2 separate regions of the Homo sapiens genome follow, and region 1 is linked to region 2. Evidence: fine-mapped expression QTL. A gene starts in region 2. The other region holds a variant in brackets. All regions are shown on one strand. Distances are from middle to middle. Region 1 has its middle 4.9 kb from the start of LINC01589. Region 2 holds the start of LINC01589 (long intergenic non-protein coding RNA 1589).

The links. PIP is the estimated chance that this variant, and not a neighbour inherited with it, causes the effect.
Region 1: its variant is fine-mapped to the expression of LINC01589 in aorta (GTEx, PIP 0.94).

What each region holds. Positions count from the first base shown.
Region 1 is chr22:45,608,319-45,612,709 of GRCh38, reverse strand. No RefSeq gene overlaps it. Among named protein-coding and RNA genes, the nearest start is that of LINC01589, 4.9 kb to the right of the region's middle. The variant A/T (reference allele first, on the strand shown) is at 1,800.
Region 2 is chr22:45,603,212-45,607,602 of GRCh38, reverse strand. LINC01589 (long intergenic non-protein coding RNA 1589) reads left to right here and starts at 1,956. Exons shown (of 2, transcript NR_131244.1): 1 at 1,956-2,202; 2 at 2,845-3,171.

The DNA of each region.
Region 1 (4,391 bases), 5.1 kb before region 2:
ACAGCGATGACAGTCGCTGCTACATTTACGGTATTTCTTTCCACCGAGGCCTGCGGGCTAGCCGCTGCTGGGGCGGGGGCCGGTCACGAGGAGTTGCTAGCAATAGGCTGCGTCCTGTTGTTGCACGAATGATCTCAACTCCTGCTCTGGGACAGGGGTTTGCTCGCTCATCAAATTACAGCAGGCTTGTGTCAGCTCCAGCTGGTAGCTGGGCAGCATTTGCACTCTGGGTGCCTCCTGGGAGAAGCCTGGAGCGCAACTCACTTCAGTAGGAAGGGAGGTAAATGAAAACCTGGAAGCTGCGACAGGAGCCCTCTACTGAGAAAAAGAAACTGCAGAAATCGGCCTAGGGCAACTCTCCGTAAGACAGAAGTTTTACAATGTTCATTTTCAGGTGATTTCTTTTTTCTTTTTTTTTTTTTTTTTTGAGACAGAGTCTTGTTCTGTTGCCCAGGCTGGCGTGCAGTGGCGTGATCTCGGCTCACTGCAACCTCCGCCTCCTGGGTTCAAGCGATTCTCCTGCCTCAGCCTCCTGAGTAGCTGGGACTACAGGCGCCCGCCACCACGCCCAGCTAATTTTTGTTTTAGTGGAGACTGGGTTTCACCATGTTGGCCAGGCTGGTCTCGAACTCCTGACCTCAGGTGATCCTCCTACCTCGGCCTCCTAAAGTGCTAGGATTACAGGCATAAGCCACCTCATTCAGCCTTTTTTAAAAATTTATTTTTATTTATTAAACATTTTTCAAAGTGGTAAAATATACATAAGATAAAATTGACCATTTTAATCATCTTTGAGCGTATAATTTTCAGCAGCACTAAGTTCATTCATATCGTGGTACAGCCTTCACCACCATTCACCTCCATAACTTTTCTCATTTTCCCTAAGTCCCCATTAAATACCAGCTCTCTGTCCCCCTCGCCCCAGGCCCTGGCACCCACCATTCTATGAATGCTTCCTGTCTCTACGAATTTGACTCCTCTAGATTCCTCATCTGAGTGGAATCATACAGTATTCGTCCTTTTGTGACTGCGACTCTTATTTCACTGAGCACAATGTCCTCAAGATTTATCCATCTTGTGGTCTGTGTCCGAATTTCCTTCCTTTTTAGGGCTGAATGATATTCCATTGTATGAACAGACCACATTTTGGGTTTGTTTGTTTTTCTTTTTTTGAAACGGAGTCTCACTCTGTCACCCAGGCTGGAGTGCAATGGCGCGATCTCGGCTTATTGCAGCCTCTGCCTCCCGGGATTCAAGTGATTCTCCTGCCTCAGCCTCCCAAGTAGCTGGAATTACAGGTGCATACCACCACACCTGGCTAATTTTTATATTTTTAGTAGAGATGGGGTTTCACCATGTTGCCCAGGCTGGTCTTGAACTCCTGACCTCAAGTGATCTGCCTGCCTCGGCCTCCCAAAGTGCCGGGATTACAGGCAAGAGCCACCATGCCGGGCCTGGTTTTCTGTTTTTTTGAAATAGGGTCTTGCTCTGTTGCCCAGGCTGGAGTGCAGCTGCGTGATCTCAGCTCACTGCAACCTCCCACCCCCCAGGCTCAAGTGGTCCTCCCATCTCAGCCTTCTGAGTAGCTGGGACTATAGGCATGCACCACCACATCCAGCTAATTTTTTTTTCTTTTTTGGTTGATATAGGATTTTGCCATGTTGCCCAGGCTGGGCTCAAACCCCTGGGCTCAAAAAATCTGCCATCCTTGGCCTCCCACAATGCTGGGATTACAGCCATGAGCCACTGCACCTGGCCATAGATCACATTTCGTTTATCCGTTTGTCCATTGGTGAACA[A/T]TTGGGTTGCTTCCGCCTTTTGGCTATCGTGTAGGGTGATTTCTATTATGATACTCTTTACCTTTTACAAAATTATTTGTATACTAAAAGCATAGGTTGCTTTTATTCACGTTAGTGAAGTTAAATAATGGCCAACTTCATTGGACCCTGCTTCTAGAATTCATTTCTCTTATGAAATTGAAACGAGCTTTGTCTTAAACAGTTTGGTGCATTGAGAGAAAATTAAGAAAACACAAATGATGAAAACAAAACGTAGTTCAGTAAATTTGCAATAAACAATGAAAGAAACTTGCTTTTACTGGGCCTGAAAGACCCCGTGCCAGCCTTCACGTTATCCTGCTGGTAAGTCCCGTAACCACCACTGTGTCTCATTCATCACTGTATCTCTGGGCCTAGCCCTGTACCTGAGTTATAGGAGACATGCCGAAAAATTTTTATTTTTTTAAAAAAGGAGAGTGAGGTGACATTTACTGAGAACTCACAAAGGCACGTGCCTGGGAAAGGAAGAGAAGAACTGGAACAGATATTTTCTGAGCTCCTCTTCCGGACCAGGCACCGTGCCCACGTTTTGTAGTCACCATCTTGCTTCATACTCCCCAAACTCCTGCAAGGTAGTAATTATTAGGCTCACTTTTCAGATGAGAGAACTGATACAGATGAAAAAACTCTCTGGGAGGATCTTGAAAGAGTTGGTAAAAAGTGCTAGATATTGGGTTTGGTCCTACCAGGAGTAAGCGAGGAAAGGGCTCTTTTCCCCGGGGAGTTAATATCAGACTTGCCCCCTCCAGAATATTGGGAATGGTCTCCTCGGCTAAATTGATTTAGTGTGTTCATGCCAAGCCCTTCCTAGGCCTTGTGTCCATGCCTGGTTATTGTTGTGTGTTGTTTTAATTTCATGCATATTTTATTTTTTAATTTTATTTCATGCATACAGGCATTTGCACATAATAAATGGTCAATAGAGATTCACCAAGTTGAACTGAATGTTGTTTGCAAGGAGGAAGGATTGGTTCCACAGTGTCAAAGTTTATCGAGACCTTAAACCAAAGGTAGCCTCTTCTTTCTGCTTGTCATGGAAAGAGCACAGGAGGCCGGAGGGTAAGAAACAGCTTGGCCGTGTCCTACTCTGGGGGAGTTTCTTCGTTTCTGAGGCTCACATTTGTCCTCTGCAAAATGGTAGTAATGATCTCAACCTGGCAGTGTTGTTTGGGGCTGGTGAAGGCCAAGTTGCTGCTGTTTCTCTAACGAAGGTCATCCCTGTCCAGTTAGAAATGTCCTTTCTTTTTCTTTCTTTTTTTTCTTTTTTCTTTTTTTTTTTGAGATGGGGTCTCACTCTGTCACCCAGGCTGGAGTGCAGTAGCATGATCTCGGCTAACTACAACCTCTGCCTCCCAGGTTCAAGTGATTCTCCTGCCTCAGCCTCCTGAGTAGTTGGGACTACAGGCATGTGCCACCACGCCTGGCTAATTCTTGTATTTTTAGCGGAGGTGAGGTTTCACCATGTTGGCCAGGCTGGTCTCGAACTCCTGACCTCAGGTGATCCGCCCGCCTCGGCCTCCCAAAATGCTGGGATTACAGGAGTGAGCCACAGCGCCCGGCCAAAAGTGTCCTTTCTTTTTAATGTCTATTAGAAACAGGCTGTGCTTCTACCTCTGAGCTCCGCATGCCTCTTTCCTCTCACCCCTACCCCACTCCTACCGTGCCTCTCACTGAACACCCAAGGTACCCATTCTCCAGGGCATTAGCCCACCAAGCTGGGCCTCACATCCAGCTGCAAAGATCACCCAAAGCTCTCTGTGCCATGATGAGCTGGCATTGGTCTCACTGTCGTATGACAAACAGGAAAGCTAGCAGGAAAGCCACAGACCGACCTAGTAAGCTTTCTCATGTTACCCTAGGTTAGTCATCGCTGCCAAGTTTTTGTGGCACAGAAAGAAAAAAATAAGCCCCCTCTTAAGCCCATGGAACTGAAGAAGACTGGAATGTGGAGAATGCCCAGTCCTCCTAAATCCCAATTGGAATAATCATGCTGGAATAGATTTCTTCTTGTTCACTCAAAACACTAAGGTTCTCAACAGCAAGTCACCATCACCACAGGCCAGAGCGGATTCACCCGACCTCAGCGCCGTTAGCATTCGGTCCTGGGATGCCAAAGGCTTTCTCTGCTGGGATCTGAGTTTGGGGGTTGAGGTGCTCAAGTTTCCAGGGCGATGCTTCTGGAGGGGTTTTACCAGTTTCTAATACCGAAGGCTCAGGGGAAGCAGTTTCAACTGGGGGCCTCTCTAATCTAGGGAGACAATGGAGAAATAGTTTCTTGTGTGCAAAGCCACTCTTCACACTGGGACGGGCTCTGCTCCCTAGAGCAAGAATTAAACACCTGCTGTGTATGCACAGGAAAGGATGTTCAAGAGAGTGCTTTCTGGGGAATCTGGAGATTTCTTCTCAGATCTGTCTGACTTTTCCTGCAAGAAATGCAGAAAAGGCTGTTGCCTTTTAGGAATGATCAGGAGCACCGTCTACTCCACCGGCTGACTTGAATAACTCACCCTCAAAGGTGCAGGAACCAGGACAAGGTGACCAGGGTGTGGGACT
Region 2 (4,391 bases):
TTCACCATGTTGGCCAGGTTGGTCTCCAACTCCTGACCTCAGGTGATCCGCCCGCCTCGGTTTCCCAAAGTGCTGGGATTACAGGCGTGAGCCACCACGCCCGGCCAGCTCTCTGCAGACACCATCTGGGCGTCCTACACTTCAGTTCAATTCTGACGCTGGCCACCCAGAGTTAGCACAGGCCCGAGAGGATATGGGCTCCGTCCTGCAAGACCGTCCCTACTTCAGATGTCAGTTGCAAAGATTGGGCGCTCAGGTTACCCACACTTCCGTCTGACTTGGCTACACATCAGGGGTCCCCAGAACGCCCTCCTCGGGTTTGGTAATTGGCTAAAATGGCTCACAGAACTCAGGGAAACACTTTGGTTACATGTATAGGTTTCTAAGACCTTATACAAACTGGGCCCATTAGTCTTTGCTCCCTGATACTATCTGATACCATCTGGTCTCATTCCTTCCTGAATGGAATAATTCCTTCCTCATTCATTATCACAAGGACAATAATGTCCTTGTAAAGGACATTATTGATGATACAGATGAACAGGAAGACGAAGAGGCACACAGGGCGAGCTCTGGTGGGGCCCGGGCACAGGAGCTTCTGTCCCCGTGGAGTTGGGGGGCGCCACCCTCCCAGCATGCGGATGTGTCCACCAGCCCAGAAGCTCTCTGGATCCTGTAGTTCAGGGATTTTTACGGAGGCTTCATTACTTACGCGTGATGGATTATTAGCTCAATCTCCAGCCCCTCTCCCTTTCCTGGAGGGTGGGGGTGGAGCCAAAAGCTCCAGGCTCCTCGTCGAATCTGGGTCTTTCTGGTGCTCAGCCCCCAACCCCACCCAGGAGCCACTGAGAGTCACCTCATTAAACCAAAGACAAGGGATTAGGAGCTTTGTGTCAGGAACCCGGAAAGAGACCAAATAGAAGTGAATGTTTCTTATTATGTCACACAGCCACACCACGAGGTTGGTGCAGGAGCCCTTGAAGGAAGCCCTTGGAGGATCTGAGACCAAGAGGGCCTGATCAGATCGGAGTTTTGGAAATGTAACCTGGCAGCCTAGGGGAGGACTGGACAGAGTGGGGAGGACAGAGGGGAACTGATTCACCAGAGGGAGGGCGTGAAGTGAGTGAATGAATGAGTGAACCAATGAATGAACAAGATGGGAAGGAAGGAGTGAGACCAGATGGTATCAGATAGTATCAGGGAGCAAAGACTAACGGGCCCAGTTTGTATGAGGTCTTAGAAACCAGATCAAGGAGGTGGGATCAACGGTGCTTTCCTCTAAAGAAGCACATTTCCGGCCGGGCGCGGTGGCTCACGCCTGTAGACCCAGCACTTTGGGAGGCCGAGGCGGGTGGATCACCTGAGGTCAGGAGTTCGAGACCAGCCTGGCCAACACGGTGAAAACCCATCTCTACTAAAAATACAAAAATTAGCTGGGCATGGTGGGGGGTGCCTGTAATCCACACTACACAGGAGGCTGAGGCAGAGAGAATGGTTTGAACCCCCGGGAGGCAGAGACTGCAGTGAGCTGAGATCACGCCACTGCACTCCAGCCTGGGCGACAGAGCGAGACCCTGTCTCAAAAAAAAAAAAAAAAAAAAGAAGCAGCAGCAGCAGCAAATTTCCAGGAAGAAGCAGGCTATGGAGATCAGGGCAGGCAAAGGACAGAATTAGGTTAGTGCATCAACTGGGTCCAACCAGGAAGACACATGTGTTTATCTCCTGCAGCACCAAAAACCACCCAGAAGACAGCTCAGTGGACCCTAGCAGTGGATTCTACATGTCTGCAGAAAATGAGCAGAAAACAAGCCAGAGTTACAGCTATCTGCAGAGAGACTACATCCAGGAGGTCTGAAGACTGAAAGTAATCACTGCAGTCTGACTTCTACCACTGACACCCTTCCCATACATAATTTAAATGTGTAATTATAATACCATTGCTTAGTTAACGGACACCAATTCGTGCAGGAGCTGCCACAAACAGTAATAAACCAGCTGTGTTAGAAATGGATCACTTATCAGTGCGTGCCCAAGCCTCCTAATGCCTCATGATGTTTAATAATTAAATTGTGACACCTTGAACCCGCAGCTGACACCATGAATCACAGTGGAATTCTCCAAATGGAATGCAGCCACACCTCAGCTTCTGTGCTGCGTGCTGCCACTGAGGACATTCGATACCATTGAAGCCGTCAGATAGAGGTGGGTTATTTCCCTGTGCCCTGCACCTCCCTTCTGGCAAGTCCCTGGGAAGCAGTGGCCACAGATGAGCTGCTGCTCTCTTAAAGACTGAGATCAGGCCGGGCGCGGTGGCTCATGCCTGTAATCCCAGCACTTTGGGAGGCTGAGGCAGGCAGATCACCTGAGGTTGGGAGTTCGAGACCAGCCTGGCCAACATGACGAAACCCTGTCTCTACTAAAAAATACAAAAAATATTAGCTGGGTGTGGTGGTACGCGCTTGTAATCCCAGCTACTTGGGAGGCTGAGGCACAAGAGTTTCTTGAACCCAGGAGGCAGAGGTTATATGGAGTCTCGCTCTGTCACCCAGGCTGGAGTGCAGTGGCTCAATCTCGGCTCACTGCAACCTCATTTCAGGAGATGAGACCGGCATCCTTGTGGGAGAAGATGGCCCTGAGCTGGGCATGGCAGAAGGGCTGCGGAGTGTGTGTGTGTGTGTGTGTGGTGTGTGTGTGTGTGCACACATGCGCACATGTGTGTGTGAGAGAATGTGTGTGTGTTGGAGATGATTACCGAAGCCTTCCTGGCACATAGTAGGTCTTTTTTCCCACAAAGAGTAATGTGATTATTGGTAGTAATGGTGACTGTCACCGTGCTTCTCACAGGCCGTATTTCAAAAGGTCTACGGTGGCTCCGTTTCTTCTCTGAGACTTCAAAAGTCCTTCAAGAGTGAGTTCCCGTCTCATTCTATGTCCAGGATGAAGACGGATGGCCTCTTGGCACCCATCTCTTTGGCATGAACGATGTGGGGAAACGTGAATGGAAATGGGGAACTGTTGCTGGCACCCAGAAGTCATCCGGTCCGGATGAAGCCAAGTCACAAGGAAGTGCCTCCAATTATTCTTCATAAATTCCTCTGAGGTTTCACTTCTTGTCCACACAAGACTTTAATAAAATGTGGCATCTAACTGAATAAAGACTATCCTTTCGGGTGTGTGTGTCATGACAGTACTATTTATGGAGGACCTCCTGTGTAGCAGTTCTTGCACTGTTTTACGTAATCATCCCCTTTCATCCTAACAATCACTCCTGTGAAGTATGTGTCCTTATTTTCATTTCGTTGTAGAGAAAACCAAGGCTCTGAGACATTAAGCAATGTGCCCAAGGACACACAGCTAGTAAGTGGCTGGATTTGAGCGCAAGCCTACAAGAAACTGTAAGTTTCTTATTTGTATTTATTAATTCATCATATTGTCATTTCTTCAAAATGCAACTGAATCTCATAAAATGTCAGTGGCAGAATCTAGGTGGAAGGTGCCCTGGTATTCACTGTAAAATTCCTTCAACTCGGCTGTATATTTGAAAATTTTCATGTTACAATATTAGGAAAAAAACCCTTGATTTCCAGGTGTTTTTTCACCTGGACAAACTTGAGAACTTTGGAAAAGCTGGCTTACCTCCTCGAATTCTAGTTGGCTGGCTTGGCTGGGTTGGCTGGGTGGGCCCTGGCACCCTCCACTCAATGCCCACCTGCATGTTAAAACGGGTCCTGCTAGGACCCTGGGCAGCCCAGGCACTTCTGACACATGCCACAGACTTCCTCTGTACAGTAGAATAGATGTCCCTTAGGAATAAAAAAAAAAAACAGGCAGCTTTCTGGTCGAATACCACTCTATGACACCTTCTGGGACCTTCCCTCCAAGTTTCTTCTACCAGATCAACAAGAAGGATTCAACTTGGTGTCTCTGTGTGTTTTGCTGTCTCATGCTGCTTATAAACTGCTTTGCCTTTAGCAATGTCCCTCAGTTATCTTGTTCTAAGGCTACAATTAAGAAGGAATCACTGTTGTGGAGGAACTCAGAGGCACCTCCAGCTCCCATTAGCTGGTCCCTTAATGCCGCTGATGCGAGGCTCTGACAGTAATTACTTTGCAAGTATAATGAGATACTTATGGGTCCATCAGGTGCCCAACCCATAGCATGATATGAAATATGAAGAGTTAAGCTGGTGGGTAATTTACACAACTGTCTACCAAGTCTCTCCAGGATGATTAAGAAAAGGAAATGCCGGATTGAAAAGATGCCAAGCTTCCAGAGCGCGTTCATGTGGCTCGATTGACAGTGGCAACCATTATCGTCATCACCGTCATCGCTGCTTTTAACGGTTAATGATAATAAGCCGTCACACACGGATGCAGCACTTTGCAATGCAC